4 linked regions of the Homo sapiens genome follow. The protein of the gene in region 3 interacts with the protein of the main gene of each other region in a biochemical or structural test. Each region holds a gene or a part of one and is shown on either strand. Other genes may lie near its edges. The genes, in order: SH2B1, ENPP1, INSR and TRIM72.

The links.
Region 1: the proteins of INSR (region 3) and SH2B1 form a complex in vitro, tested with the Homo sapiens proteins (one study listed by BioGRID).
Region 2: the proteins of INSR (region 3) and ENPP1 form a complex in vitro, tested with the Homo sapiens proteins (one study listed by BioGRID).
Region 4: the proteins of INSR (region 3) and TRIM72 form a complex in vitro, tested with the Homo sapiens proteins (2 studies listed by BioGRID).

What each region holds. Positions count from the first base shown.
Region 1 is NC_000016.10:28,858,997-28,867,157, forward strand, and holds the start of SH2B1 (SH2B adapter protein 1), read left to right. Parts: upstream 1-4,846; 5' UTR 4,847-7,098; coding exon 7,099-8,037; intron 8,038-8,161. UniProt on the Homo sapiens protein: Adapter protein for several members of the tyrosine kinase receptor family.
Region 2 is NC_000006.12:131,803,051-131,811,412, reverse strand, and holds the start of ENPP1 (ectonucleotide pyrophosphatase/phosphodiesterase family member 1), read right to left. Parts: upstream 3,394-8,362; 5' UTR 3,378-3,393; coding exon 3,138-3,377; intron 1-3,137. UniProt on the Homo sapiens protein: Nucleotide pyrophosphatase that generates diphosphate (PPi) and functions in bone mineralization and soft tissue calcification by regulating pyrophosphate levels.
Region 3 is NC_000019.10:7,111,222-7,116,845, forward strand, and holds the end of INSR (insulin receptor isoform Long preproprotein), read right to left. Parts: 3' UTR 1,044-5,624; downstream 1-1,043. UniProt on the Homo sapiens protein: Receptor tyrosine kinase which mediates the pleiotropic actions of insulin.
Region 4 is NC_000016.10:31,208,911-31,217,752, reverse strand, and holds the start of TRIM72 (tripartite motif-containing protein 72), read right to left. Parts: upstream 3,635-8,842; 5' UTR 3,456-3,634; intron 3,022-3,455; 5' UTR 3,015-3,021; coding exon 2,625-3,014; intron 1,792-2,624; exon of another isoform or gene 1,596-1,791; intron 1,011-1,595; exon of another isoform or gene 995-1,010; coding exon of another isoform or gene 725-994; exon of another isoform or gene 618-724; intron 1-617. Other genes in the region: PYDC1 (pyrin domain-containing protein 1), read left to right, coding at 725-994. UniProt on the Homo sapiens protein: Muscle-specific E3 ubiquitin-protein ligase that plays a central role in cell membrane repair by nucleating the assembly of the repair machinery at injury sites.

The sequences.
Region 1 (8,161 bases), on a different chromosome or scaffold from region 3:
CTGTGCATGATCTTGGCTCACTGCAACCTCTGCCTCCCTGGTTCAAGCCGTTCTCATGCCTTAGCCTCCCGAGTAGCTGGGATTACAGGCATGGACCACCCAACCTGGCTAATTTTTTTGTATTTGTTGTAGAGATGGGGTTTCACCATGTTGCCCAGGCTGGTCTTGAACTCCCAGCCTCGGGTGATTCGCCTGCCTCAGCCTCCTAATGTGTTGGGATTACAGGTGTGAGCCACCATGCCCAGCCTATTTATTTAAGTTTTATTTTAGGTTTGGGGATACATGTGAAGGTTTATCACATAGATAGACACCTGTCATGGGGGTTTGTTATACATGTCATCACTCAGGTATTAAGCCCAGTACCCAACAGATAAATTCCTTATTAAATGACAAAAGATCACTGGGCGATGAAAGCTGAGCTCATCAGACACCCCTGTTTTATTTGCTGTAGCTATTGGGAAAGCTATACTCTTTTTCTGCCAGGGTTGTTTAAGCTGGTAGAATGAGGCTTGGCTATTTTGCTACTTACGAGATGACAACCTCCCTGAGAATGAAGACAGTCCAGGGAGCCAGGCGTGGGTCATGCCTGTGGTCTCAGCTACTGGGGAGGCTGAGGTGAGAGGACTGCCTCAGCCCAGGAGTTCGAAGCTGCAGTAAGCTATGATTGTACCACTGCACTCCAGCCCAGGTGACAGAGCAAGACCCTGTATCAGGAAAAAAAAAAAGAGAGAGAGAAAAAGAAAGAAAGTCCAGGGAAAAGCAGAACTAAAAGAGACTGAGACCAAGTTCAAATCAACATTGTTTGAGCCTCTGGCTCCAGCCATGCCTGAAGTCATCCTATCTCTGATTTTTCAATTATTTAAACCAATAGACCCCCCCCCCCCGGCTGTTTTCATGTTTAAGTTAGCTGGAATTAGGGTTTCTAGTAGTTATAGCGGAAAGCATCCCGAGTTTTACATCCCTGCTTATGAGGAAGAAGGGTTTCTCCCCTTCATATTAATGCCTTGGCTTAACCTGGGCCCTGGATAACGTCCCCACCAACCTTCTCCGCAACCTTGCTCCTTCAGCGACCATCCTCTCTACTGATTCCTTTCCCCTTAATGTTTCCAACAAAATCAGATCTTCCTCAAGATAGAAACAAACAAGCAAACCTTTCTACCTTCTCACACTTACAACCTGCCTTATCTCTGTCCTCCCCTTTTCAGCCAAACTGTGTAGAACATCTCTCCACATTTTTCCTCCCACTTCTTGAATTTTTTTTTTTTTTTTTTTTACGATGGAGTCTTGCTCTGTCACCCAGGCTGGAATGCAGTGGCACGATCTTGGCTCACTGCGACCTCCACCTCCCAGGTTCAAGCGATTCTCCTGCCTCAGCCTCCCAAGTAGCTGGGATTACAGGTGCGTGCCACCACGCCTGGCTAATTTTAGTAGAGACAGGGTTTTGCCATGTTGGCCAGGCGGGTCTCAAACTCCTGACCTCAGGTGATCCGCCTGCCTTGGCCTCCCAAAGTGCTGGAATTACAGGCGGGAGCCACCGTGCCCAGCCTCCTCCCACTTCTTTACCTTCCACTCATTCCTCAAACCACTACCATTTGGCCTCTGCTGAAACTACTCTCACCAAGTCACGCAGCAGTCTCTTAGTTATCAATGCCTTCTAGAGACCATGGCAGCACACCCTGTGATCCCCCACGGATCCCTTTATATCATTTGTGTTTGTGTTTGCCCATTTCCCCCCGACACACACACATCTTATACTCACTCCCACACTCCCTGGTCTCTGGTATGTGATTTCTGTTCCAACAGTTAGGACTCCAGATTTGTTTTTTTTTTAATTTCTTGAGATGGAGTCTCGCTCTGTTGCCCAGTCTGGAGTGCAGTGGCATGATCTTGGCTCACTGCAACCTCCACCTCCCAGGTTCAAGCGATTCTCGTGCCTCAGCCTCCCAAGCAGCTGGGATTACAGGCACGCGCCACCACACGTGGCTAATTTTTTATATTTTTGGTAGAGATGAGGTTTCGCCATGTTGGCTAGGCTGGTCTCAAACTCCTGACCTCAAGTGATCTGCCCACCATAGCCTCCCAAAGTGCTGGGATTGATAACAGTGGGATTGATTACAGGACTGAGCCACCATGCCCAGCACTTTTTTGTTTTTTGAGATGGAGTCTCGCTCTGTTGCCCAGGCTGGAGTGCCGTGGGACGATTTTGGCTCACCACAGCCTCCGCCTCCCAGATTCAAGTGATTCTCCTGCCTCAGCCTCCTGAGTAGCTGAGATTACAGGTATGTGCCACCATGTCCAGCTAATTTTTGTATTTTTAGTAGAGGTGGGGTTTCACTATGTTGGCCAGGATGGTCTTGAACTCCTGAACTCATGATGCGCCCGCCTCAGCCTCCCAGTGTTGGGATTACAGGCGTGAGCCACTGCGCCCGGCCATCTTAGAACATTTTTTTTTTTGAGACGGAGTCTCGCTCTGTCGCCCAGGCTGGAGTGCAGTGGTGCGATCTCGGCTCACTGCAAGCTCTGCCTCCCAGGTTCACGCCATTCTCCTGCCTCAGCCTCCCCAGTAGCTGGGACTACAGGCACCCGCCACCACGCCTGGCTAATTTTTTTTGTATTTTTAGCAGAGATGGGGTTTCACCGTGTTAGCCAGGATGGTCTTGATCTCCTGACCTCATGATCCGCCTGTCTCGGCCTCCCAAAGTGCTGGGATTACAGGCGTGAGCCACTGTGCCCGGCCTTGAACATTCTTAGGTGAGTCAGGATTTATCCGTCTTCCCCTCTTGGGTTATTTATTTGTCTTCGAGTTCCAGGATGGGCACTTGATCCAATCAGCTACTCAGTTCTGGAAATTTCATTGGGAATCTCAGAAAAGAGGCATGCTCCTTCTAGGAGAGTTGCTAAGCTATTAGGGTTTAAGCTTGGAGCTACAAGAAGCTATTTTGCCACTAAGAGAGGAGAGCCTGCCTGAGGGTGAAGCCAAATGCATAGGGAAGGCAGAACCAGAGATGGTGAGCCACAGGTTCCTGATATCTTCTGGCCCCTGTGTTCACCTGTCTGAATCTGTCCGCTCTGGACTTTTCGATTACTTGGGCCATAGCTTCCTTTACTGTTTAGGCCAGCTGGAGCCGGGTCAATCAGACACTGGATGGGTGGAGGATCTCACTGTGCTCATGCTTTCAACTACCCTCCGTACTTTAATTGTTCTCGATTTCTCTAACTGGCCTTGATGTCTCTTCTTAGCTCCAGACTATATGCCCACAGACGTCCCAAAAGCACGTCTGGAATTGACCTCATTATTATTATTGTTATTATTTTTGAGATGGAGTCTCGCTCTTTTGCCCAGGCTGGATTGCAGTGGCGCAGTCTTGGCTCACTGCAACTTCCGACTCTGGGGTTCAAGTGATTCTTCTGCCTCAGCCTCCTCTCAAGTAGCTGGGAGTACAGGCGCCTGCCACCAAGCCCGGCTAAAATTTTTGTATTTTTATTGCAGATGGGGTTTCACCATGTTGGTCAGGCTGGTCTCAAACTCCTGACCTCAAGTGATCCGCCCGCCTCGGCCTCCCAAAGTGCTGGGATTACAGGCGTGAGCCACTGCGTCCGGCCTTGACCTCAATTCTTTTTTTTTTTTTTTTTTTTTGATAGGGAGTCTAGCTCTGTTGCCCGCGCTGGAGTGCCGTGGCGCCATCTCGGCTCACCGCAACCTCTGCCTCCCGGGTTCAAGCTGTTCTCCTGCCTCGGTCTCCCAAGGGGCTGGGATTACAGGCGCCTGCCACCACGCCCGGCTAAATTTTTTGTATTTTTAGTACAGACGGGGTTTCACCATGTTGGTCAGGCTGGTCTCAAACTCCTGACCTCAAGCCATCCGCCCGCCTCGGCCTCCCAAAGGGCTGGGATTACAGGCGTGAGCCAGCGCTCCCGGCCCTGACCTCATTTTTTTTTTTTCTATTTTTAAAATAGGGATTCTAGTTCTGTTGCCTGGGCTGGAGTGCCGTGGCGCCATCTCGGCTCACCGCAATCTCTGCCTTCCGGATTCAAGCTATTCTCTTGCCTCTGCCTCCGGAGGGACTGGGACTACAGGCGCGCGCCACCATGCCCGGCTAATTTTTGTATTTTTAGTAGAGACGGGGTTTCACCATGTTGGCCAGGCTGGTCTCGAACTCCTGACCTCAGGTGATCCACCTGCCTCGGCCTTCCGAAGTGCTGGGATTACAGGCATGAGCCACTGCGCCCGGCCCTGACCTCATTATTTCTACCCACCCCCTCCCCCACCACTACCACCATCTTCATCTCCAGCCTCAGAGATGCAAACTCCTGGACCGCCTGCCCCTTTCCTCAGATAAACCAAGGTCGTAAGTTCAGGCTCCGCCTCCCCGCAGGGCCTCCCCAAGGTCACCCGCTTCTTTCCTCGCTCAGCTCCTTGGTGGCGTTGTCCGCGTGCCCCTCCACAGCGGGGCCGGCGCTCTAGGCTGCAGCGGGCCGTTCACACAGCCTCATCATCTCGCTGGTTTCCGGTGCTCGGCGGCTACTCTAGCCCTCAGCCGGGCCCTGGGACTCTATCCCCTAAGGCCGGTTCTCTATGGTCGACATCGCCCCTTTGTCCCGAATTTCCTCCGGGAGGACGCTCTGGTGGGATCCAAGCACTTCCCCCGCTGCGTCTGTGGTCGCTTTTAGGTGCAACTGGAGAAGGCACTGAAGCCCTACGAGATTCACACCGTCTTCGGTCTCCTGGGGTCGGCGCCGAGTGGGAGGATGGCGGAAGTAAGTATGAAGGTGCCCTTCCCTCCCGCCGCTGTTCTCTATGGTCTCTTCCTTCAGCGACGGGAAAGGGGGTCCTGACGCCTGCGCGGAACCGGGCTGGGCGCTCGTCGCGTAGTGGGTGGGGGCGCAGGGAGCGGGAGCCGCCGCCGCCGCCGCCGCCGCCGGAGCTAACCTCGGGGACCGAGATGCAGGTGGGACCGGAACCGGAACCCCCCTCTTCAAGTACCTTTTCCCTCTCCGCGACCCGGCCCTGGCGCCCGAGAGGATTCCTGGGTGGGGGTGGGCGTGGAGGGCCGGGGGCTGGAGAGGCACTCGGCCCCGGAGAGTGCAGCAGACAGGGCTGGTCCCGAGGTGGATGCGGCCCCGGAAAATGGGCGGCTGGGGGGTGTCCAGGGAGTAGGGTCGGATCGGAGTATATGGACCACCGGGCCCGGAGGGTCCGAGCCGAGAGCGGAGCCTGCACCCTCCACCTCCCGCCCTTCGGGAAATATCAGAACTGAGCCAGGAGGCAGGTGCACCGGGAAAATGTGTCTGAGTCCTGCTTGGCAGAAGAGAAACTGAGTCACCAGCTTAGGAGTCGCAGGGTCAGCGGGCCTGAAGGGGGCTGGGTCTGTCTGCGGTGCGGAGGATTGGGTGGGCCTGTGTGAGCCGAGGTGGCCGCTGGCTGGAGATTGGTTTGCACTTCTTGGCTGGGTTCCCCCGTGCTCCATGACTCCTGCATCTCCTGATTGTTTCTCGTTGGTTTGGAGTTGTCCCTGCGGTTGGAGCCATCTGAGCTTGTAGGGTCGAGGCCCAGGAGGAAGGGGAGGGTTCACCGACTTACAGCCTGGCTGTAGGTTTGAACAGGAGTCTGAGGTCGCTGAGGGTTTGGGGAGGCTTTCCTGAGCTGCTCTGGCCCCAGTCCTGGGGCTGTCACCTTCCAGTATTGCGTGGCGGGAGGAGCGCTAACAAGAGCCAAGGGTTGTAAATTCCACACCCAGCTCTGCCACTTTCTAGTTGTAAGACCTTGAGAGGGCTCCTCCTTTCTCTAATTTCTATTTTAGAAAATTGGAACAATAATATTCTTCTCCCACATGAAGATAGTAACAATGGCAGTCGTTCAGCGGATGCTTACTTTGCGTTCAGCGCTGACATACCCCATTCCATGTAATTCTCTCAACATTTCGAGGGGAGGGATCATTAGCTTTGTTTAACAGATAGAAAAACGGAGGCTCAGAGAGGACGTGGAATTTGTTCAAGATAACATCGCTCATAAGGTGGCTGGACTGGGTGCTCATAAGGTGGTTTGAGCCCTGGTCTGACTCAAGTCCATGGCCTTAACCAGAAGGCTAACCTGCCTTTAGGGCATACTCCCCAGTGGGAGAAGAGGAAGGTGAAAAATCCTAGGGCCCCAGCTCTCCCTGTGATGTTTTGTTTACGTGAGGCCAGCAAAGACTTGACCTGAGCCAACCCAGTTTCTCCTCTGGGGCCCCTGCGGCCTCTGGCCCCAGACTGAAGGGATACCAAAGAAGTGGGCTGTAGCTATTTCACATCTCCTTCACGCAGTGCGTGGGTGCTGGACTCTGGGGTCAGCTTTCAAGACAATTACTGTTTTGGTCCATCATGCATCCATCCTCATTAATGAATCGGCCCCCTCCAAAGAGTTGGACCCTAAGATGCGTGAGGCAGGCTCTCTAAGGTCTAGAATCCCAGCTCCTCTCTAGCCCCCTGCGAGCTGGGGCGGTGAGGTGCTATGGCTGAGGCTGGCCCAGCCGGGCCCTGGGGACAGGGACTATGAAGTGGGGAAAACAGTAGACTTGGAGTTCTGAAACTTTTCTGAGCTTCGGTTTCCTCATCTGTTCGAGAGGTCTTTGAAACCTCTCAGGGAAAGGTAAGATAACCAAGTGGGAGCCTCTAGAATGGCTCATGGGAAGTGTGACATGAATATTGGAGGATCCGATGTAGAGGGGGGGTGATCTGGAAAAGTTCCCTTTTTTAGGGGGAAGGTGCTCCAAAGCCCTCTACTGCTGGATCCAAAGCTAAGGAAAGTGGGGGCAAATGTGGCAGGCTCGGGGCAGGTTAGACGCTGGGGAGCCAGTTGGCTGGGGCCTGCAGGGTGCCAGGATCTGGGAGAGGGAAGGGAGGTGTTGGGCTCCCTTCCCCATTGCTCTCTGCGGAGTCTGAAGTAGGGTCGGACGTCTCTGGCTGGGGGTGGGATGCAGCCTCCGGTGCGCCCTCAGCAGTGACCCTCGTGTGTGCCTCTCTCTTCCTTTCGCAGCTGCTGCCGCCCACCCCTCGTCTTCTGGCTGCCTCCCTCTTTGTGCCCCACAGGCTCCCCCTCTCCACCTCCTGGGGCCCATCATGAATGGTGCCCCTTCCCCAGAGGACGGGGCCTCCCCCTCGTCTCCCCCGCTGCCCCCACCCCCGCCCCCTAGTTGGCGGGAGTTCTGTGAGTCCCACGCCCGGGCTGCGGCTCTGGACTTTGCCCGCCGTTTTCGCCTCTACCTGGCCTCCCACCCCCAATATGCGGGGCCCGGGGCCGAGGCTGCCTTCTCCCGCCGTTTTGCTGAGCTCTTCCTGCAGCACTTTGAAGCCGAGGTGGCCCGGGCCTCTGGCTCCCTGTCGCCACCCATCCTGGCTCCCCTGAGCCCTGGTGCGGAGATTTCGCCACATGACCTGTCCCTTGAGAGCTGCAGGGTGGGTGGGCCCCTGGCTGTGCTGGGCCCTTCTCGATCATCTGAGGACCTGGCCGGCCCCCTCCCTTCCTCAGTCTCTTCCTCCTCTACAACCTCCTCCAAGCCGAAGCTCAAGAAGCGCTTTTCCCTGCGTTCAGTGGGTCGCTCTGTCCGAGGCTCAGTCCGTGGCATCCTGCAGTGGCGGGGGACCGTTGACCCTCCCTCCTCCGCTGGGCCCCTGGAGACCTCGTCAGGCCCCCCAGTCTTAGGTGGAAACAGCAACTCCAACTCCTCTGGCGGGGCTGGGACCGTTGGTAGGGGACTGGTCAGTGATGGAACGTCCCCTGGGGAAAGATGGACTCACCGTTTTGAGAGGCTGAGACTCAGTCGGGGAGGGGGCGCCTTGAAGGATGGAGCAGGGATGGTGCAGAGGGAAGAGCTGCTGAGTTTCATGGGGGCTGAGGAGGCAGCCCCTGACCCAGCCGGAGTGGGCCGGGGAGGAGGGGTGGCTGGGCCTCCTTCAGGGGGAGGAGGGCAGCCTCAGTGGCAGAAGTGTCGCCTGCTGCTTCGAAGTGAAGGAGAAGGAGGAGGAGGAAGTCGCCTGGAGTTCTTTGTACCACCCAAGGTGAGGCCCCTTGGAGGGTGGGTGACTGAGAGCAAGTGAGAGAGTGCTCAGAGTGGTCACAGCCCTGCAGATAAGCTCTGGGGTTTACCAGCCCATGGCCCTGGTGTCGCTCACTTTTTGTTGG
Region 2 (8,362 bases), on a different chromosome or scaffold from region 3:
GATATAGATATAGATATAGATATAGATATAGATATATAGATATAGATATAGATATATGTTTTTTTAAAGAACTCTTTCACTGAAACATGAAAGTAGTCTTCAGTGACCACCACCCATACGCAAGCCCTTTACACATACACAGATACACAGATATATGTATTCATAAGTATAGCAGAAGGTCACAAACAACACAAAAAAAATGCTTTTGAGGAGCTAACTGGAGAAATGTATTGCAATGTAGTTGAGAATTACATGACTGTAAAATCACACCAAGAAACAAGAAGGATATTTAAATACATCTCCAAGTCAACACATCTCGGTGGAAGTCTACACTTCAGTTCAAAACTTCATTTACAACCAAGGAAAGGCATCTAATATTTAACATACCTACTGACACATGTAGAGAATAATACTTGTTTTTCCCTCTTGCTGTTTTCCTCAGTTTGGCTCAGTACCTAGGCACAAGCATTCCAGGGCCCAGGGCCAAAAGCCTCTAAAGCACAGCTTGGTGGCCCTCTCCTAAGATCAACCACCACAATGGGGAGAAGCCAGGGTAGGACAGAATCCTCACTCCTTCATCCACTCTCACACATCTACATCATTTTAGTTTATCTGAGAAAACTGCAGAGTAATGTAAAAATTACATTGCCACTGCAACATGATTGCCTCTGAAAGGCAAGGCAACGCAACTCTTCTATTTATCCTGCTAAATTAAAACAGTGTAGCTGAGGATCATAGTGCTGGGCCTCTCCTAATCCCAACCCCAGGTTGCAATTAGTTCAATCTGTTTCTGCAGCTTTATGAAAAGTGTGCTGAGGTTTAATCTGAAAACAAAAGGAATTCTATAATTGCAGCTCCTTTCTAGAAGACATATCCCAGAGCTCTTTGACGACAATTGTCAGGATGCTTTTGGGGCCTTTTCCATTTGGAAGCCCATTATTTGGGGAAGTTTTTGGGGGGGGGGCGGGGTTGGGGGAAAAAGGTATTGAAGTAGGGAAGGGAAAGAAGAATACGAGTTTGCACTTTCAGTTCAGTAGCTAAATAGCAATTTCAACAATAAAGGGTCTCACCGTGTCACCCAAGCTGAAGTGCAGTGGCACAATCACAGTTCACTGCAGCCTTAACTTTCCCTGGCTCAGCTGAACCTCCCATGTCAGCCTCCCAAGTAGCTGGGACATAGACGCATGCTACCATACCCAGCTAATTTTTGTATCTTTTGTAGAGATGGGTTTCATCATGTTGCCCAGGCTGGTCTCAAACTCCTGGGCTCAAGCAATGGAACCGCCTCAACTTCCCAAAGTGCTGAGATAATAGGTATGAGTCACCGCACCAGGTCTATTTGGTAACATTTGTATGTTAATGTCTCACAGTGTTCCATCAAAAGATATGAAGTAAGAATTCTTTCCAATTCAATAGATGCAAAAGACCCCAATTAATGGATAAAAAAGGTCCATAATAGTCCTACTTGTGGAAGTAAGTCCTAGGACACTTCCATGTCAAATGCCCAGAGTAGCATCATCACACAGAATGCTGTTTGACCAGTTGACTGCAGGTCTCAAAGACTGGACAGCTTATTCCAAAACTAGACCTTTGCTGATATCTGTTGTGGATGTATAAGTAAATGAGCAAGAAAAATTTAAAACCTGAATTTTGCAATTGGAAAACCTGTAAAGGTTTATAGGCATGTAGAAATGGTTTTACACAAGAGTTACACACTGATTCCATATACAATTATCGACTACCTCATCGTGTGTGAAACACCTCAAGGTATTAATACTAAACAATTTAAGTGATCAGGTTGTAAAAGCTAAGGTCTTCCATTAACAAAATTTTTAAAAGGTGACTCAAGAGACTAAGTTCTCATCAATATTGTGTTATTATAGACTCAAAACAGTGTTACAAGATGCAAAATTTTATCTTGAGATGCAAACATCATGTGGCTTGGGGTACTTATTCTGTGAAACTAAGGCTTCTTTTTAAGTACTAAGCATACGGCACCATCTCTTAAGTCTAGGAAGATTGATTCCTCAAAGTATTATAGCATCTCCATGATGTCCCAAATATAGTGAAAATGGAAATGCATACAAAATGAAAGGAGACTTGAAAAATTAGAAATTTTTCTACAAAGCATTATTCAATCATATGTAAGGGGATATATTTTAGGGTACACTATACATAGAAATCTGTGATTTCCATATAATACAATAAAAATGATTCTATTTCCTTGCTGTTTTCAATTTACTTCCCTACCTACATTCTTCAGCTTGATTTTCACAATAATCCCATGCAATGCACAAGGGAGTTGATGTTGTCCCATTTTCACACATTAGAAATTGAGGTTTAGGGACAGTTACGCAAGGCCTCAGCAAATAATAACAGCCAGGAATCCAGGCCTTCTCTCAATCAGCACTTCCCACCATGAATTCAGAATAAAAACCAACCCCCACATTTCATGAAGTTGACTGTGGGTCCTGCAAATGTCATAGCAAAATAGCAGAGGAGTAATAGGTAGCTTTTGTTAGCAACACAAACCGTGTAGCCTCTGGTTAGAAGAGTGGGCAAAGAATCATAAAGGTTTCTTCAGTCACATAATGTGAACATCCATGGAATTTCTGAGCACCTGCAAGGAAATTCCAAAACGGAGCGAAAGGGAAAAAGTGTTCCGTAGAGTTCCTAATAAAACTTAAAGAGCTCCGCTAACTCTTCAACTGCAATCAGTTAACCCAAGTGAAGTCATGTATACTGCGCCCAGAGCCCCCTAAAAGAAGCAACACATTGATGCACCTTCTTAAGACCAACAACTTTCGCGTTTGACATTTTTCTCCTCTAAAAACCCGTACTCTCCTGGGGCAGGGGGTCGAGTATTTCTAAGGATGACCGTTTTGAACAGCCTGCTTTCACAGGCATCCATAATTCAAGTGAGAGTGAACCATCCTGCCCTGGCAAGGTACCTGGCAGGGGCGGCTGTGTAGGGCACTTGCAAAGGCTGCGGAGGAGAGCGCGCGGGCGAAGAAGCACTCCCGGACCATGCCTCTCTCCGGTGCCCGGTGCTGACTGCGCTGAGAGCGCAGGAGCTCGGCGCCGCCCTCCCCGTACTCCCAGCCCTCCCGGGCGCCGGGGCCTGGCCGCGGACCTACCAGCGAGAGTACTTTATAGGTGTTGGGGTCCTTGGCAGTGCGGGCGCGCGCCGCCTTCTCCAGCGGCTCCTCCCCCACGTCCATAGGGGCCAGCAAGGACGCGGCCGCCTGCGGGTCCCCGGGCGCCTCGGCAGCGTGGCTGCGGCCCCGATCGCGGCCGTTCCCCGCCGGGCCCTCCCGGGGAGCGCGCCCGCCCTCGCCGCCGCGGCTCCCGCCCCCCGCGCAGCCGTCGCGCTCCATCGTGGCCCCGGCCGCTCCGGCCCCGCTGCCCGGCCGCGCCTTTAATAGGCCCCGCGCCGCCCGCCCCGCCCCGCCCCTCCCCGCCGCGCCCGCCCCTCGCGGTCAGATCCTTGGCTCCCCGCCCTACACCCGGCTCTCGCAGTCAGGGCAAAGCGACTCAACGCCCCGGATTATTTGGCTTCCTGTCTGATTTCGGGCACTCTGTGTGTCGGTTATTTTGGGTCCCTTACGTGGGCGTGTCTTAAACTTCCCCCCAAGCCGTCCCCTCCCCGCGCCCCGGCCACCCTCCCGACACTTGCAGGAATCGCCCTGCGTGGCCTCGCGGCGCGGGCTGGGCTGGAATTGCAGCGTGTGGTCTGCAGAGGGCATGAGATCATGGGGCCCCAAAATAGAGCGGGGAGGAGGAGAAGGATGCAGCCGCCGATGCCGGTCCGGCTTCTCAAAGGCGGGAGAGAGTGGAGTCTTGGGGTCGACCTGTGAGTTTCTGGATGGAAATGCAAATGAACCATGGAGGAAGGCGACTTTCTGTTTCTCCCCCTCTGCGCCCCGTCCCCCACTACCTACGGTACTCTGAGAGAGAAATCGTCCACTTAAAATACGTGGGTTCACATGTACTGAACACACGTAAGGGATATTTCGATTCCCACGGTTTTATGTGGTTTCTGGAGTCTTCTCGCTATTGTTTGTATGTATATTTGCTTATTTTTCTAGACTTTCTGTATTGAAGGTTTCAGGAGTTGGCGTTGCCCTCTCCTGAGGTTGACACTGATACCTAGCTATATCAAAAGTGTTAATGCAATCTGAAATACTTTGATAAGCCTTATTTTTCAACTAGGACGCTAACAGTGAGCTGATTCTTGGTGGGTTTTGTTTTACCTTTGATTCTGGAACTTGTACATTTTCTGGCTCATCACTTAGCAAAATCACCAGTGTGTAGTGAAGTGAGACAGAGGGAAACCAGTGACTTCGAACTACTTTGCAATACCCAGGACTGACTTCAGGTACCAAGGAAAACAATTAATTTTCAATACATTTTGAATACATGAATATATACAAGTGTTTACAAATGAGAATGAATGTTTAACAAATATAAAATGCATGTTATCCCTTTAAAATAGTCAACTTGGGATGCTCTTCATTTATACTGACTCATCCATCCACCCATCCATTTATTCATCAAGTAATGAATCCTTCAACTCAATCTTTTGGCCTCCAACTATGCATACCATATAAAAAATGAATTAAAATGTATCTTTCCTTAAGTGTGGTGGAAGCGGGGGTGGGGGGGTAGGACCAACTCGTAAACAAAATAATTAAAACCTAAGTCATATATGCAGAATAGAGTCACACATAGGATATTGATACAGGAGATAGAAATTATTTAGGCAGATAGTATGAGCAAAAGAGCCCTCGGCAGAACTTACCTTCTAACAAAAAGCAGCCCAAGAAATCACTTCCTTTCTAACAAAGAGCAACCTGGAAGATTGGGCTGCAAACATAGGTAAGGAAACTGGAAGCTTGCACGGGAGATGCCGGCAGCGGCACAGACAGAAGGGGCTACTGGGGCCAGGCATGTCCACCATGGGGGTTCCACCTCCCCTCTTTTTTACCACATGCACAGTAAGAAGGAAATAAGCAACACGGAGTAGCTACCTGCCTATATAGTAGAAGATTGGGGCCGGGGCTGCCAGACACTTAAGCCCTATGCAGATGACACACCTGGTCCTAACCGGGTTTTCATGCCATATGCACGAAACCGGGTTTTCCCTCCTTATGTAGATCAGACACCGCCTCCCCACTAGCTCATCTATAAAAACCCCTGCATTTCACCACGTATTGCAACCCATTTTTTGGGACCCCTCTCTGTAGCAGAGCTATTCTCCTCCTTTTGCCTATTAAAAATTCTGCTCCAAACCTCACCCTTTGTGTGTGTCCACATATTTGATCTTTGTGGCCGTGAGACCAAGAACCTCGGATGTCACCATAGACAACAAAGCTACTTCAATATTATGAGAGCTTAGTAGAAAGGACAGTTGACATCTGGAAGAAGTAAAAGCCTTCCCTCAAAGCATTATTGAACTTTTTTAAAAAGTTACCTTTGAGTCAGCTCACAAACCACCCAAGAGAAACAGGTTTTCACTGTTTCATAATCACACATATTTTTCTGCCCCAAACTTGGCTCCAAATTTTCCTTTGACTCTTTCCAAAAATCAGATTCAAGGACAAAGATTTGCTCCACTGAGACTGGTCAAATGAGTGTCAAAACCTCTAAAAGCAACTCAACAGAGACATTATCCAAAGTGCCTTTAAACCTGACAAAACAAATGGAAGAAGTGTATTGTCTGCATCTCAAGGCAACGAACCACTTTAAAGACTTAACATTTGGAAAACACAGTGTGCAGTCTCCAGGGTCACAAACATCTTAAGGCCTAGGGAAAGCATTTTTCTGTGGCATTAATTTATTTTTAAGATTTTGTATGACATCCTGGTTTTTCTTTCTTTTTTTTGAAAGCACAATATGCCATGAACCATATTTGACTGAGGCAGCCCTATACACACTGCAAAAGGCAAACCATGTGCCATGTTAAAGGTTGCAGCATCTATTCAACAGGATTGTGTGCCCAGTGTGGGCAGATGGTCAGATTTTTCAAGAGAAGCAGGAAATTTAAATGTTTGTGTGAATTCTCCGGTTGCAAAATGTTGTCTACAAAATTCAGAGAAACAGTTTCTTCAAACAAACAAAATGTAGCACGTTTAAAAGCCAAACAAAATGTAGCACATCTGCAGGACAGACCTGGCACACACGTCACCAGGATGTGGCCTCTGCCTAATGCTCATGCCTCATCTGTGCCAGGTGGGACTTAATATGGGTAATTATAAAAACCCAATTGGAAGTCTAAAATCGGAAGAATAAAAATGAGCCAAGGCCGGGCACGGTGGCTCACGCCTGTAATCTCAGCATTTTGGGAGGCTGACGCGGGTGGTTCACTTGAGGTCAGGTGTCTGAGACCAACCTGGCCAACATGATGAAAACCAGTCTCCACTAAAAATACAAAAATTAGCAGGGCATGGTGGCACATGCCTGTAGTCCCAGCTACTCTGGAGGCTGAGGCAGGAGAATTGCTTGAACCTGGGAGGCGGAGGTTGCAGTGAGCCAAGATCATGCCACTGCACTCCAGCATGGGCAACAGAGAAAGACTCTGTCTCAAAAAAAAAAAAAAAAAAATGAGTCAGATATGCCATTTTCAGGTTTAGCTATAGACATTGCAAAGCCTATAGTGAAATATTGCCTCAGTCTTCTTTATTCTAAATGATCTGAGGGACAGCTTCACCATCACATTCCAAAGTACAATAAGGTCATGAGATATAAAACCACAACACAATTTTTGGGTTAATGCAAAGGTGAACAATGAATGTTTCATCCTTAATCCTAAATCACTCTGTTTTAGTGATTGCATACTCTAATCTGGAATAGCAGTAAAGATGATAATTTAAGATTTTGTGTAAGTTTTCTATTAAGTTTTATTGTAACATAAATATTTAGACATTTCTGTCTTGGTGCTTGAAGCTTTGGTTGTAGATAAGGCCAAAACACCAAACAAAAACAATTTATCAATGTTTAATTATTACTTTGAAATATTACTTTGAAACAACTTTTCTTAGTGATTAAAAAATGAAATATGCTGTAGGGTAATTATTTTAGCAGCTGTTTCAGAGCTTTTCCAGCTTTCTTCTAATTCGCCAGTAAAACAAGAAAGACATCTAGCCAAATCTAAACAGAAAAAAAACCCACAAGCCTCTTTAATCTTTGTGAGGCCTAGGGAAAACATTTTTCTGTGGCATTAATTTATTTTTAAGAATGTGTATGACATCCTGATTTTTCTTTCTTTTTTTGAAAGCACAAAAATATGTCCCCTGGAGCAAGAAGCTTGGATAACTATGTGACCTTGAACAGATTACCAGAAGCCTCTGAGCCTTAGTTTCCTTATTTGTAAAATGCTCTTTCAGATAATATCTCTAAATGCCAACAAAATGTTTGACATTTCAACTTTACACAAACATTTAAATCTATCATTTGCATTTGTAAATCAACCACTCACTACCCCTAAGGGAGAGAATAAAAAGATTTAATTTTCTCCTATATTATGCATGGTTTATATATAATCTCTGGGAAGGTTTGAGACCTGTTATTGGGCCTGCATCTACAAAGAGGGTAAGGAAAGGATTCTTGCTGCTCTGGGATGAAGGAGAGATGCCTACAGGGATCAGTTAGGTAACAAAACGAATAGAGAGAATTCAGAAGTGTAAGATCCAAAGGAGAGTAATAGAACCTGGGAAAATGGAAAACGCATGTACCATCCAAAGAGAGTGTGGGGTTCTAATTAGGGAAAAGGAGTCAGGATGGCGGGACCGAGGGAAAGCAAAAATATAAAGCAGATAAGCTGTAAGTCTGCCTTGCTTTGTGGTCCAGAACATGTAGCCCTCTTGCACAAATAACTCACAATCTTCCTGCACTCAGCTATCATCAGACCCTCGGGTGATTAAAAAAAAATGCAAGCTAATTCACTGCAACCTCGGTGTTATCAGTACTGCACAAAGCCCTCTTCAGCACACAGCACAAGCACCATTCTAGAACATCCCCAGCAAGCCTTCGTCTCCTTGCAGTCAGCTCCTCTCTTGCTGGCCTGCCCATTGTTCCCTTGCAACACATTTTCATACGTGCTCTAATAAATATGACTTTCTTTACCTACAAGTATCTTCATAAATTCTTTTTACCCCCACACCACTGGCCCCAGATTGTCGCTGATTACCTGCTACAGGAAGTTGGTTTCTAGTCCTTCACTTTTTGTTAACCACGGTATCTGCCACTCCTTCATTATCTCTTACACTTCTATTTCAAACAAAATGTAGGGTTGCCAGGTAACCTGAATTTTAAGTTTGATTAAAGTACAATTTACCTATTATCATATCTACCCATTATATGC
Region 3 (5,624 bases):
CCGGAAGAACCACCCAACCAACACATAGAACTGTAAGAAACAGGCCAGGCACCGTGGCTCATGCCTGCAATCCCAGCACTTTGGGAGGCCGAGGCGGGCAGATCGCTTGAGAACAGTAGTTCGAGACCAGCCTGGGCAACATGGCGAAAACCCGTCTCTACTAAAAATACAAAAATAATCATCATAATGATAATAATAAGGCTGGGTGTGGTGGCTCACACCTGTAATCTCAGCACTTTGGGAGGCTGAGGCGGGCGGATCACCTGAGGTCAGGAGTTTGAGACGAGTCTGGCCAACATGATGAAACTAAAAATACAAAATTAGCTGGGAATGGTGGTACACGCCCGTAATCCCAGCTACTTGGGAGGCTGAGGCAGGAGAATTGCTTGAACCCGGAGACAGCGTTGCAGTGAGCTGAGATTGCACCACTGTCCTCCAGCCTGGGTGACAGAGTGAGACTCCATTTCAAAAAACAAACTAACAAAAACAAAAACAAACAAACAAAAAAAGAAAATAAATAAACAGTTGCTGTTTTAAGCCACTCAAGAAAGACTATTCAAAAGGCTTTCAATCCCATGGTCTAACCCATGGTCACTCACCTGTCCACCCAACCTGGGACAGGTCTCCACTCCCAGGATGACATTGAAAATACTTAACATATGAGTTTCCCGCATGTCAGAATAGAGCAAGATCTTGAAGGTTCATTGGTATTCTCGGAGTGAACCCTTTAGTGGTTGGACCATGGGGAGGTCTGGGAGCCCTTGGGGAAGCGCTTACTTACCAAATGGTATGGAAATAGTGCAATATTTAAACCACCAGTTTGGCCATACAAGTATGTCCCTACGAGTCATCAACTCTGCTGGTAGCAACTATTTAACCTCCCTTTTCATGTGTGGAAGAATCTAGGTGTTTTTCTCCTCTAAAAAAAGGCACCTACATATTCCAAGAGGTTTTCCTTAACACAGCCCAACTCATAGCCACATCCCCCGACCACACGACAGGTCCTTACCGGGACACCACACAAAAACAAGCGTATTCTCAGATAATTTAATCAGAATTTTAATATAAACAGGTCATTATCCCATATTTTACATGCAGAACGATTTCAATATTCCAAAAAAAAAGGCGTCTTCTGTACATGGTGCTACTTGGCTCTTGTAGGAAAACATTGAAAAAATAATAATTGAGCTGTTGGGGGGTTTTGTGTTTCTGAGTTGTTTTCTGCAAAAGCTGCAGCACATTTGATCCTGCGTTGCCAACGCACAGGGCCGAGGCCACCCAGGCACACAAAGGGACGAGGAGAAGCAACTTTCAGGCAAAGTGTAAAGACTAAACAAGCTGTTCCTGAATATGTGCATGGGTGCACACTTATTTTGAGGCTCTTCCTTCCTTCTCCAATGGGACCAAGAGCCCCAGATTTGTGATCTGGTTTTTAACAAGGATTTTCAGTGGCCCGCACCCAGATAGAAATTTGGCTGGTGGCTGGTTCTGGACCTTGACTAGTATCAGAAGGTAAAAGTAAGCTCAAAAAGCCATTGTGTCCCCTCCCCTCACTCCCATTTCTCGGGGACCCTTAAGGAAATATTCACCTTCCATTGCACTCCCTGAAAGTCCACCATGTTCTTTTGTATGTTCTAGGAAAAAAAAAAGTGCTGACCTGTTCTTTTCATTCCCAACCTCACCTCGCATATAAATTAATATTCTGAAGAACATGCTGGAAGATTTTCTGAAGTGACACCCCTCTCTGTGTACCATGTATATAAAATCGGCATTCCCTGTTCCCCATCCTCAACAAAACCATTGTTTCTGAAGAGCCTAAGGTGTCAAGGACTCACCAGGTGACATTCAAAGGACATTTAACCCTAAACTTCCACCCACTGTGAAGGAGAGAAATGATTAGCACTGGGACTACAGCACATCCATTTACCGGATGACCAGCGCAAGTCATATGCTGATGACGCTCCTGCTCTTTCACACGTGTTACAGCAGACTACAAATAAACACCTCCCAATCCAATAAGCACATTTCTTGGTGGACTACCTGCCCTGCTAGGATACAGTGAAAGATCTGTCTGTCAGTTGGTAACATAGTCCCCAGGGTCACAGGATGACCTATGCAGACCCTTGTGTCAGTTCCCACAGCTTCTCTCAATCATCCTCAGCCTATATCCAGACAAGCAGCAGTGCTTCTCTTTCTCACTGCTTCCAATGATGAAACAGCACCTAGGACAGCTCCTAAAACCTGAACATTTTCTGATGCGTATTTGACATCACTGATGCAGAGAGAAAGTGATGTGCTTGGTATTCTCCTCCTGGAAGAAGGAACTCCTGTGTGGCTTTCACTACATTAATGAAAAGGGTTTTAATCATAGTGAGACATCTTTAAGAACAAGCAACAAAAAGTGTTATCCTAAGCTGGTTTTGTTGCTTTTTGTTGTTGTTGTTGCAACTTAACACTACAAACTCCCAGGACAACCGTGTCTTTCTAGGACCAAAGTTTTATTGTTACAAAGTCAACATTTCCTAATGTCAAAGGAGGTTTGCAACCCAATAGCTGTTTGCTCTTTTCACTGTGGCAGTAGAGTCAAATAAATGAAACTGGTGAATCCCATTTGCAAGGGGCAGGCCCAGCACACCCTACCTTTCTCCAGGGCAGGTGGAGAAAGGTGAGTCTGCAAGGGCAGTGCCTAAAAGTACAAGAGCAGCAAGATTTGGGCCCCACTGGTCCTGCCTAGACTCTCACATGGGTTATCAAAGCTGCACAAGGTCCAATAATATCAGCTTGAGGTCAGTCAAACCCCAACACAGAGGTCCAAGGTGTTGTTGCAAAAAAAAAAAAAAAAAAAAAAAAAGCGTTCAGCACATTAATGGGTTTTGGATTGGAATTTCCCTCACATGCTCCCATCCCACTTGGAGAATTTAAAAAGACATTGCATTAGGTGTTTGTGTGTAAGGTGCATCACCAGCCTGAAAGGAGTGGGCATAAACCATCAGGGAGCCCAGGGCACCTTTGTGCTCACTTCAGGGGGATTCCATGGAACAGGTGGGAATGCTTGCTCTGAATCAAAGCCCGTCTTTGCCCCGGCAGCCATCTCTCACCAAAGGAAGGTACACCTTGCTGGGTTACCCCATATATCAGATACATCATGACAGCCTGGAACTTAGTTTATGTTTGGGGAACATAGTGACAATAGATGGAGGATTTTTTTTTAAAGGAAGATTAAATTCAGAGAAGAATATTACCAGCCAGGAAGAAAAGGATCTATGCTCGCATAAAGGCCATACCTTCTCCATCCCAACTCCCTCCCTCAAAATTCTTACTGGTCCCTGGCATTCGAATCAGCTGATACACACGTTCCCTGATTCAGACCGGTTCCAGGTAGAATTCTGAAATCTCAAAGATGTCCATGATTGAATCACATCTTAACAATACACTGAGGTAGACTGTGCTGAAAAAAGAAAATCACTATCCCCCATTCACCTGTTTATTTTTCTTTGATAAAAATTTACATGCGCTCCATTTTTTATGAGAGTGATTTTCAGAGTGATTTTATATATTAAAATAAATACTTTTTCCCCTAATATAAGAAAAACCTTTCTGAATTAGAAAAATGTGAAAATTGCAGCTAGTGTAGTATACAACCACTACAAATTTACTAAGAAGAGAACAAAATACCTAGTTCTACGTGTTTTTTTTTTAAATTTAGGTACAGACCCTCATATTTACAAAATAAATTTGGCAAAAATAATTTCTGTACTCTTGCTTCTTGTACCCAATCACTGAGGCTCCTCAGCAATATTTTTACATGCTGTATTTTCCCGAATCATATAAATAAGATAGCAATAGACAATTGGGATTCATGTCTACCTGTGTTCTTAATCAAGAATTGAGAGGGCTTGGAGGTTGCCATTATGACTCTATCCCATTCTTAAGCCCACAACTCTTAAGAGAAGAAGAAAAGGAAGCAGTCAAAAAGTTGTAAGAAAATGCACTCAGGAATAACGCATGGGCGATGATTTTTTGATGAACCAAAGTGATGAGTTCACTGTGTTCTTTGAGCAGCTGTGGTGGTTCTTTTTGCAAAGAGAAGAAACGGTGGATTCACGCCCATTCGGAAGTTCTTGGTGGTGTGTAAGGTCTTTTTCACGGTTTCTCCTCCAGACTCTACTCTCTTAGGGATTGCAACACTGTAAGCACCTGAGCATTCAGCTCAGGCACCACACCTGGCCCAGATGAGGTCACCGGGCTCAGAGCAGCTTCCGGGAGTTCAGTACTGAGGACCGTCAGATGCTCTCAGGGTGGAGGGGACCAAGACGTACTCTCAGTGCACCTCTCTCTTACATTGCTTAGATGTTCCCAAAGTCCATCCAGGTTGTTGTGCTTTGGGATCTGACGTTCTTGGGTTTGCACAATAACGGTTAGGATGTTCACACCCGGGAGAGGAAACGCCACAAGAGGTACACACAGAGAATCAGAGGATGAACACAGGTGTTCTTGAAGGCAGGCTCAGAGCTAGGTAGCTACCAGCTTATCCGAACAGGAACCTTCCAGCAGACCTGGTACCTGAACCAGACCATCCATAAAACCTAGTCTCTCACACACTCCACGTGGCCTCACAACATCCAAAAGTGTTAGCAGCGAACATGGCTTCATTCCCAGAAATGGATGCCTTTAAGACCAAACAAAGAGGCCACTTGTGCCTGACTCCCTCCCCTTCCCGGCCCCACAACAGGCAGACCAACTCATGTCCCCACTCCCCGCCAACCCCGGGGAATAGTCAATAACTTATGAGGCTAATACCAGAGACTTTAAAAATTAAATATGGTACAAATATATTCTCAAAACTCTGTCATCTCAGTTCTTTTTTTTTTTCCTTTTTCCATTTTGTTTTTTCTTTCTTTTTCTTTTTTTTTTTTTAATGTCCTAGCTTGGTTTGGTCTTGAAAAGATTCATAATCACTCCAAATGAAATGCTCCTCCCTTGGCCACCAATGTGAAGGGAGGGTAGAAACCTGAGGCTAGACTTCTGACACAAGAAGAATCTGTCGAGAGCACAGTCTCCCAGTCAATAAGAAGGAAGGAGAGAGGGGGATGAGCTCGCACCCTTGAGAAGAACCTTCATGAGCCAATTCCCAAAGCATCAACTCCGCATGGATACTTTGCACACACATCAGCCGTGTCTAATGGACACACACACGTGCATACACACGTGAGCACACGCCGGGACCACAGACCCTTATCCAAAATATGAAAGCAGCAGCTATTGGTCAATTTGAGGAACTCATTTTGTAAAGAAAAAAAAAATCCTTCAGCCTGGATGAGAGAAAAAAAAAAAACCAAAAAAACCATCTTGAAGCTCAACCTGTAAAACTTGAAATTCTCCTGGAACAGGGCTGGGTGTTTTTGTTTTGTTTTTTCTTTCGAACTTTTGTTCCACAAACAGGAAGTTTTGTCTTTTATACTGAAGCTCAGACACCAGCAAAAAAAAAAAAAAAAAAAAAGAATTTGTAAAAACAGGTGCTTTCTTTCCATCTGCTGGGGGCGGGTGGGGGGAACGAAAAAACACAAAATCCTGGTTTGAAACCGTCGTTGCCCCAAAGGAGCAGCAACTGTGGAAACCCCTTG
Region 4 (8,842 bases), on a different chromosome or scaffold from region 3:
ATCCCAGCTACTCGGGAGGCTGAGGCAGGAGAATCACTTGAACCAGGGAGGCGGAGGTTGCAGTGAGCCAAGAATGTGCCACTGCACTCTAGCCTGGGCGACAGAGCAAGACTGCATTTCAAAAAAAAAAAAAAAAATGTCCCCTGCACAGACCAACCATTCTGTGGTCTAGATCTTACCCAAGACCTCAAATGCAAATATGCAAATATAGGAGAGCTCCCAATACTCCTGCCAAAGCCATTTTTTTTTTTTTTTTTTTTTTTTTTGGAGACAGGATTGCCTAGGCTGGAGTGCAGTGGCAGAATCACAACTCGAACTCCTAGGCTCAAGCAATCCTTTTGCTTCAGCCTCCCGAGTAGCTGGCACTACAAGCATGAGCAACCATGCCAGGCTACAAAGCCACTTCTTTGCTGGGAGGTGCCTGACCATGGAATCAGTTCCATTCCTGCCTCAATGACTTGCAACCTGTTTCCTCCTCTGCAGATTGGGAACAGCAATCCCCACCTCAACAATTTGGCGCCCCCACTCTCCCAGGGGAAACTGGGGGACCCTCTAGGCGGTGTTTGCAGAGTCCCCTCCCAGCAGGAGCCACAGGGTTGAATAGGAGCTGCCAGATCAGTCTCCTTCCCGGGACATCCCCGGGGGCGGCAGCTCCACCTGCTGCAGGAAAGGTAGGACCTGATGGCTCCAGGCCCTCGGAGGCTCAGAGGCGCAGGGCTGAGCCATGGGAACGAAGCGCGAGGCCATCCTGAAGGTGCTGGAGAACCTGACACCGGAGGAGCTCAAGAAGTTCAAGATGAAGCTGGGGACGGTGCCGCTGCGCGAGGGCTTTGAGCGCATCCCGCGGGGCGCGCTCGGGCAGCTAGATATCGTGGACCTCACCGACAAGCTGGTCGCCTCCTACTACGAGGACTACGCAGCCGAGCTCGTCGTGGCCGTGCTGCGCGACATGCGCATGTTGGAGGAGGCCGCACGGCTGCAGCGGGCTGCGTGAGGGCCACTCTGAGCTGGTACGTGATCTCGGGACCCAACCCCGCTTCCTCGCCAAGGACCCACGCGTCAGGTCCCGCCCAGAGCCTTCCTGTTCCCCTCCTTCAGGGTCCCTCCTGGGGTCCTCCCTCAGACCTCCGGCCAGCCCCTCCCGGGGGCGAAGGGCTGGGCTGCCGCGAACCCTGGTGGGCTGCATCTCGCCCCACTGCCCCCTTCCAGGCTCCTGGGCTGCCTGGGCCCTGTTCCGTTTCATGGGTTCTGTGCTTTCTTCGCAGATAAAGACGGGCAAGGTTGGGCGAGGTTGGGTTTTTTTTGTTTGTTTGTTTTTTGTTTTTTTTTTAGCGGCAGCAAGATTTATTGCAAAGAGCAAAAGAACAAAGCTTCCACAGCATGGAAGGGGATCCGAGCGGGTTGCCCTGAGGTTGGGGTCTTAAGCACAGGTGTGCTGGGATGGGAGGGGTCCCGGGAGGAGGCTCCTGCCCTGAGCTAGGAGACCACCAGCTAGGACTGGGCTGAACTGGGCCAGGCAGGACTGAGAGGCTGGGTCCCTGGGAAGTCTGGGGGCCTCGAATACCAACGAAAGGACGGTGGTCTACCCCTTCTAGGAGGCGGGTCAAGGCAAAAGGAGTAATGCAACGCCTGTGAAGCCAGCCCCACGCGCGCACCAGTCGCGTAAGACAACAGCAGTGTCTCCACCTCGGGGACCAAGGACGCCTCCGTGCCTCCAGACCCCGCCTCCTCCAGCCCCTGCACCTGTCATTTATTCTTCCACTGCCCAATAAATATTCATGGCAGACTTTACTGGGGCTGCGCGCACACGTGCCCGCCGGTAGCTATACGTGTGTGCTTTTGCCACACGGATGACACGCACCAGCCAGTGTGCGTTCGTCTCTATTTGCCTCTGTCTGGGTGTCTCTGCTGGGTACTTCGGGACGCGCACAACTGCGTGTGGGCTCCCAAGGCTTTCGGGACTTCCAGCTCCACCCAGAAAAACATCCTGGACGGGGCTCTCGGTGCCACCCTGGGCCCGCACACATAAGTGCAGATCCCGGCTGCCTAGCCCTTACAGTCTCCCTTCTGGTGAGGCCCCGCCTGGGGACCGTCAGGCCAGCCCAAGTTCCGCAGCTTCAGGGGTGCGTGGGCCTCCGCTGAGCACAAGGGGACAACCCTGCCCCGGCCGCCTGGCTCGGTCCCGAACGCCGCGCCTCCAGTCCAAAGTGGGCCAGCGCCGAGCAGGGAGCCAGCCCGAACGGCCCACCGGGTGCAGGAATGCGAGCGTGGGCCGCAGGGGCTGGTCAGTCCCTGCTCCGCCTGGCTCCGCCCGGCCCATCAGACCCGCCCTGGGGCTCCGCCCGCCCATCTCCAGTTTCCTCTAGGGACTAAGGCCGGGAAACCTACGTTTGCTCAGCGCCCTTATCGCCAGGCTCCATCCCTGCGCGGCTTTCCTCTGCCAGCCCCGCCTTAAGCTCCTCAGACCCTCTTTCCTGGCTGCTTCGCCCCGCCCCCGCCCCCCGCAACTCCAGGAGCTCGTGAGCCTCTCTAGAGACTCAGAATCCAAATCACTGCAGCGACCTCCCCATCGGCCCCGTGCCACCGAACAGCCCCTCCGACCACGATGCGCGCGGATCCCGCACCTTGAGGCGTGCGTGGGCCTCGGCGGCAGGCAGGAGGCGATGACCGCGGTGCGAGCCGAGTGAGGCGCACACTCCGCACACCAGCGCGCGGTCCTGCTCGCAGTAGATGCTCAGCGGGTCCAGGTGCTCCTCGCAGTGGCCCTGCGGCACCTGGGCCAGCCCCTCCACCAGGCGCGCCAGCTGCAGGTTGGTGCTGAGTGCCTGCGGCCGCGTGGGGGCCTGGCAGCAGGGGCAGAGAACGGTGCCATCCGCCGCCGGCTCCCCGGCCACGCGGCCTAGGCAGGCGCGGCAGAAACTGTGGCCGCACTCGGCTGTCACGGGCGCGTCGAACAGCTGCAGGCACAGCGGGCAGGACAGCTCCTGGTGCAGGAGGCCGGGCGCAGCCGACATGGCGGGCCTGGGTGGAGGAGGAGTAGGTTAGGGGGACCCCGCGGCGCCGCGCTCCCGGCCCAGCCCTGGCCCAGCCCTAGCCCAGGCCGGGCCCGCCGCCCCGCAGGGAGAAGCCCCAGCCTGTAAAGACCTCACATCCTACACTGGATGGGACTCTGACGGCCAAGGGGAAAGAGGAACTCGGTCTCAGGCCCAAAAGCAGCCTCCACTGCAATTCTCAGCTCCAACCCCAAAAATATGCCCTATCAGTCAACCCCAGTTCCTGAACACAAGCCCAGATTCTAGCCCACTGTCCTTGCCCTCGCCTTAGCCCCAGGCCTCAGCCTCTGACCTTAGTCCCGGACCCAAATTCTCCAGAGCCCCCACTCCGAGACTCCCCTCCCTCACTTTACCAAGATACCCAGACCTCCCCTCCCCCTCTCTCCAGCCCACGGGACTCACAGGTCTGGTTGGAGATCTTAGGCTGAAAGAGTCTCGAAGGAGGACCGGTCAGGGTTGAGCTTAGCTGGACTGGGGTCAGGGCTGGGTCCAAGGATCTGAGACAAGCAGCAGGCTCCAAGCAAGGACAGGGACTCACAGGGGCAGCTGGCAGTGGACACCACGCGTGATGGGCACACAGTGCTCAGCGGAAGACCCTCCCAGACTGAGCCATGGCCCCAGGACTATATTTAGCTGCCCTGCCCAATCCCTCCCATCACTTCCGGAAACCGTTCTAAAAGTGAGGGCTGAGTAGTCCCTGGGCACACATCACATGACAGGGCCACCTGTCTTGGCCCATCCACTGTTCTCTCCCCGGCCTGCCTGGAGTCAGAGCTCAGAGCCAGCGGGGAGCCAGGGCCTTTCACACCACAGAAAAGACAGAAAATTGAAGGGGGTCTGCCCTTTCTCCCCCCACTCCCACCTCCACACTCTCCAGCTCCTTCCTCCTTGCTGGCAGCCCCTCCCCAGCCTGTCACCCACTCATTCCCCAAGTTTATGGCTGACCAAGGTCACCCTGGCAGGATTACCCCACCTGCAGGAGGGCAGGACCTCACCCCACCCTGAAATGTTTTCTTCCTCCAGAGCTGAGGGGAGGGTCTTTTCCACTTTGGTCTCTCTAGTACACCCAGGACAAGCCTGGGACAAAGTAGGCCTCTCTAAATGCTTGGAGAATGAATGATAGAGAGACATTGAACAAATGAATGAACTGAATCCAGAGCCTGCAGCCCAGAACTCAATTCTGCCCTGGTTCCTGTATGTGTATCTTTCAAATCTCAGCTGAAATTTCATTTAAGTGGCGCTGGGATAACTGGCTAGCCTTATGCAAGAGAATGAAACTGGACCCCTACCTTTCACCATATAAAAAAAATTAACTCAAGATGGGTTAAAGATTTAAATGTAAGACTTCAAACCATAAAAATCATAGAAGAAACCGCAGGAGAAATACTATTCTGGATATCAGCCTTGGTAAAGAATTCTTGACTAAGTCCTCAAAAGCAACAAAAACAAAAATTGTTAAGTGGGACCTCATTAAACTAAAGAGCTTCTGCACAGCAAAAGCAAAAGCAACTATCAACAGACAGACAACTGAAGAATGGAAGAAAGGCCAGGCGCGGTGGCTCACGCCTGTAATCCCAGCACTCTTGGGAGGCCAAGGCGGGTGGATCATGAGGTCAGGAGATCGAGACCACAGTGAAACCCCGTCTCTACTAAAAATACAAAAAATTAGCCGGGCGCAGTGGCGGGCACCTGTAATCCCAGCTACTCAGGAGGCTGAGGCAGGAGAATGGTGTGAACCCGGGAGACGGAGCTTGCAGTGAGCCGAGATCGCGCCACTGCACTCCAGCCTGGGGTACAGAGTGAGACTCCGTCTCAAAAAAAAAGAATGGAAGAAAATATTCACAAACTATGCATCCAACAAAGATCTACTATCCAGAATATATAAAGAAACTAAACATTTCAACAAGCAGAAAACAACCCCATTAAAAAGTTGGCAAGGGCCAGGCACAATGGCTCACACCTGTAATCCCAGCACTTTGGGGGGCCCAGGCGGGTGGATCACTTGAGGTCAGGAGTTTGAGACCAGCCTGGCCAACATGGTTAAACTTCGTCTCTATGAAACATACAAAACTCAGCCGGGTGTGGTGGCAGGTACCTGTAATCCCAGCTACTTGGGAGGCTGAGGCAGGAGAATCGCTTGAACCCGGGAGGCAGAGGTTGCAGTGAACCGAGATCGCACCACTGGACTCCAGCCTGGGTGACAAGAGCGAAACTCCAACTCAAAAAAAATAGCTGGGCATGGTGAAGAACACCTGTAGTCCCAGCTGCTCGGGAGGCTGAGATGGGAGGATTGCTTGAACCTGGGAAGCAGAGGTTGCAGTGAGCCAAGATCATGCCATTGCACTCCAGCATGGGCAACAAGAGCAAAACTCCGTCTCAAAAAAAACAATAAATATTAAAAAAAAGAAAAGAAAGAAATTTCATCTAGAATAAAAACCAAAGTGCTAACTGTGGCTTACAAAGCCCTATCTGCTATGACCCCATTAATCACTCTGACTCTTTTATCACCCCTTTCCCCATTGATCACTCGGCATCAGGGACTTTGCACTTACGGTCCCCTCTGCCTGGAACACTCTCCAACCCAGGTACTGCATGGCATCCTCTTTTTCCTCCCTCAGACTTTGCTCAATATTACCTTTCCAGCAAGACCTCTCCCAATTCCCTGATTTTAAATCTCCTAACTCCCCAACATCTCACTGCCTGGCTTTCCTTTTCTCCATAACATTTATCAGCATCTGACATGCAATGTATTCTACTTGTTTGCTGGTTTCTTGTCTGTCTCTTCCTACGGAATAGAAATTGTGTTTACTGCTTGTCTCCAGCTTAGACTAAAGTGTGTGACACACATTAGGCGCTCTACAGATACTAGGTGAATGAATAAACACGCAAACTCAGTCCCTCTCATTTGGCCTCTCCATCTTTCTCTTAGCTTCCCTCAAACCTTTTCCTGGTTTTACTCTTTCCTCTCTCAACTGCTGTCTCTCTCAGAATGAATTTTTGTTTCTGTTTCACTCTCTTAATCTCCCCTTTGGACTCTCCCTTTGCCTGTCTCTTAGGTTCTTAATTTTTTCTTTTTCTTTTTTTTTTTTTTTTTGAAATGGAGTCTTGCTCTGTCGCCCAGGCTGGAGTGCAGTGGTACAATCTCGGCTTACTGCAACCTCCACTTCCCAGGTTCAAGCGATTCTCCTGCCTCAGCCTCCCGAGTAGCTGGGATTATAGGCACGTGCCACCACGCCCAGCTAATTTTTGTATTTTTAGTAGAGACGGGGTTTCACCATGTTGTCCAGGCTGGTCTCGAACTCCTGACCTCAGGTGATCCACCCGCCTCGGCCTCCCAAAGTGCTGGGATTCCAGGCATGAGCCACCACACCCGACCGCTCATTCCTTCTTGCATGTTATGTGGTGACAGCATGAACTTCTGCTGGCCTGCTTAAGAAGGTAGCTACTTCAGGCTGCCTGACACCTTGTTTAACCTAGGCCCTCGTTCAGGCTGTAAACATTTGGTTCTTTTAGGAGGAAAAAAAGTTCTATTATTCTTTTGGATAAGAGCAATTACCTGTATAAATGACTGCAGATAAAATTCTGAAATTAAGATGTGAAAAGTCTCAGGAAGCTGGTGCTCTTTTTTTTTTCTTTTCCTTTTTTTTTTTTTGTTTTTTTGTTTTTTTGTTTTTTTGAGACGGAGTGTCGCTTTGTCGCCCAGGCTGGAATGCAGTGATGAGATCTCGGCTCACTGCAAGCTCCGCCCTCCTGGGTTCACGCCATTCTCCTGCCTCAGCCTCCCGAGTAGCTGGGACTACAGGCGCCTGCCACCACGCCTGGCTAATTTTTTGTATTTTTAGTAGAGACAGGGTTTCACCATGTTGGCCAGGATGGTCTCGATCTCCTGACCTCGTGATCCGCCTGCCTCGGCCTCCCAAAGTGCTGGGATTACAGGCATGAGCCACTGCGCCCGGCCAAAGCTGGCGCTCTTTACCGGCACACTGAGAAATCCAGGGGAGTTTTGTGTCCCCACCTTCTTTGTCCTTAAGTCTCTGAGGTCTCACTGTGTCGCCCAGGCTGGAGTGCAATGTTATAATCATAGCTCACTACAGCCTCGACCTCCCAGGCTAAAGTGATCCTCCCACCTCAGCCTCCTGAGTAACGGGGACCGCAGGTGTTCACCACCATGCCTGGCTAAAAGCCCCTGATTTCTTCTCTTCCATTCTTGATGGCTCAGACGCAGCCTTGTGTTAGCAATAGGAAGAGGTTTGAAAGAGGGTATATCTGGAGCTGGTCTCTGAAACCACAAGTTGCTCATGCTCAAAAACTCAACTTCCAGAACTTAAATCTCATCCAGAGTTTCCAATATTGCCAAGTTGGGACTGAAGGTCCTGCTGTCATCTATAGGAGTGGGTGTCTAAGACAGGTGGGTGATAGTCAATTCAATCCTTCCCTGCAGATGGGCCAGGACTGGCCTCTGATCCACGGAAGGAACATTGATTGTCTTAAGCAGACTGAGAACAAGAAGAGGCAATAAGCCATGTGCAGGGAAGGAGGGAGTGGTAAACCGGTATAGCTGGCCCTATGAGGTCCCTCAGACCTAAAGAGCTAGGGATAGATTTCAGCTTGTCCTAAGGGAAAGTTTCCCAACAGCTCAAGCAATGAGTGCCTTGGAAGGTAAGAGCTCCTAATTATTGGGTACATGCAGAGAGAGGCCAGAAAGCCCTAGTCAGGGCTGCTACAGAAGCAAGTCCTGAATGCTGACTTCATGAGCTCATGCTGGGCACCCCTGGGAAAATCACCTGCCTCTCTGGGCCTCAGCACGTTCAAATACAATATGTGGATAAATAACACCATCCTGGCTGGGTGTGGTGGCTCACACCTGTAATCCCAGCACTTTGGGAGGCCAAGGTGGGAGGATCACTTGAGTCCAGAAGTTCAAGACCAACCTGGACAACACAGCGAGACCCCCGTCTCTACCAAAAACAAACAAACAAACAAAACAGTATAGTGGCTCACGCCTGTAGTCCCATAGTCCCAGCTACTCCAAAGGCTGAGCCAGGAGAATTGCTTGAACCCTGTCTCAGAAAGAAAAGAAAAAAAAAACCATCCCATAGAGTTGTCATGAGGATTAAACTGAAAAATATGCCACATAGGCCGGGTGCAGTGGCTCACACCTGTAATCCCAGCTCTTTGGGAGGCCGAGGTGGGGGGATCACTTGAGGTCAGGAGTTCAAGACCAGCCTGACCAACATGGTGAAACCCCATCTCTACTAAAATTATAAAATTAGCTGGGCATGGTGGCTGGTGCCTGTAACGCCAGCTACTTGGGGGGCTGAGGCAGGAGAATTGCTTGAACTCAGGAGGCAGAGGTTGCAGTGAGCTGAGATCGAGCCATTGAACTCCAGCCTGGGCAATAAGAACAAAACTCAGTCTCAAAAAAAAAAAAAAAAAAAGAAAGAAAAAAAAATATGCCACATAAACAGGGACAGTGTGCTGGCACCCAAGGGCTTAGGAAGCAGTGACTGTCACTTCCAGGTTCCAGTCCTGACTAGAATTTCCTTGTTGTGTGACCTTGGGCAAGTCGCTTAACCTGATTTTCTCACCTATAAAATGAGAATCATGTAAGGATTAGTATCAAGACTATGTATTTCTGTAAAGATGCAACAAGTAAGTTGTTTTGTTTTTTGTTTGTTTTTTTTTTTTTTTTTTTTGAGATGGAGTCACTCTGTCACCCAGGCTAGAGTGCAGTGGGGCCATCTCAGCTCACTGAAATCTCTGCCTCCCAAGTTCAAGCGATTATTCCA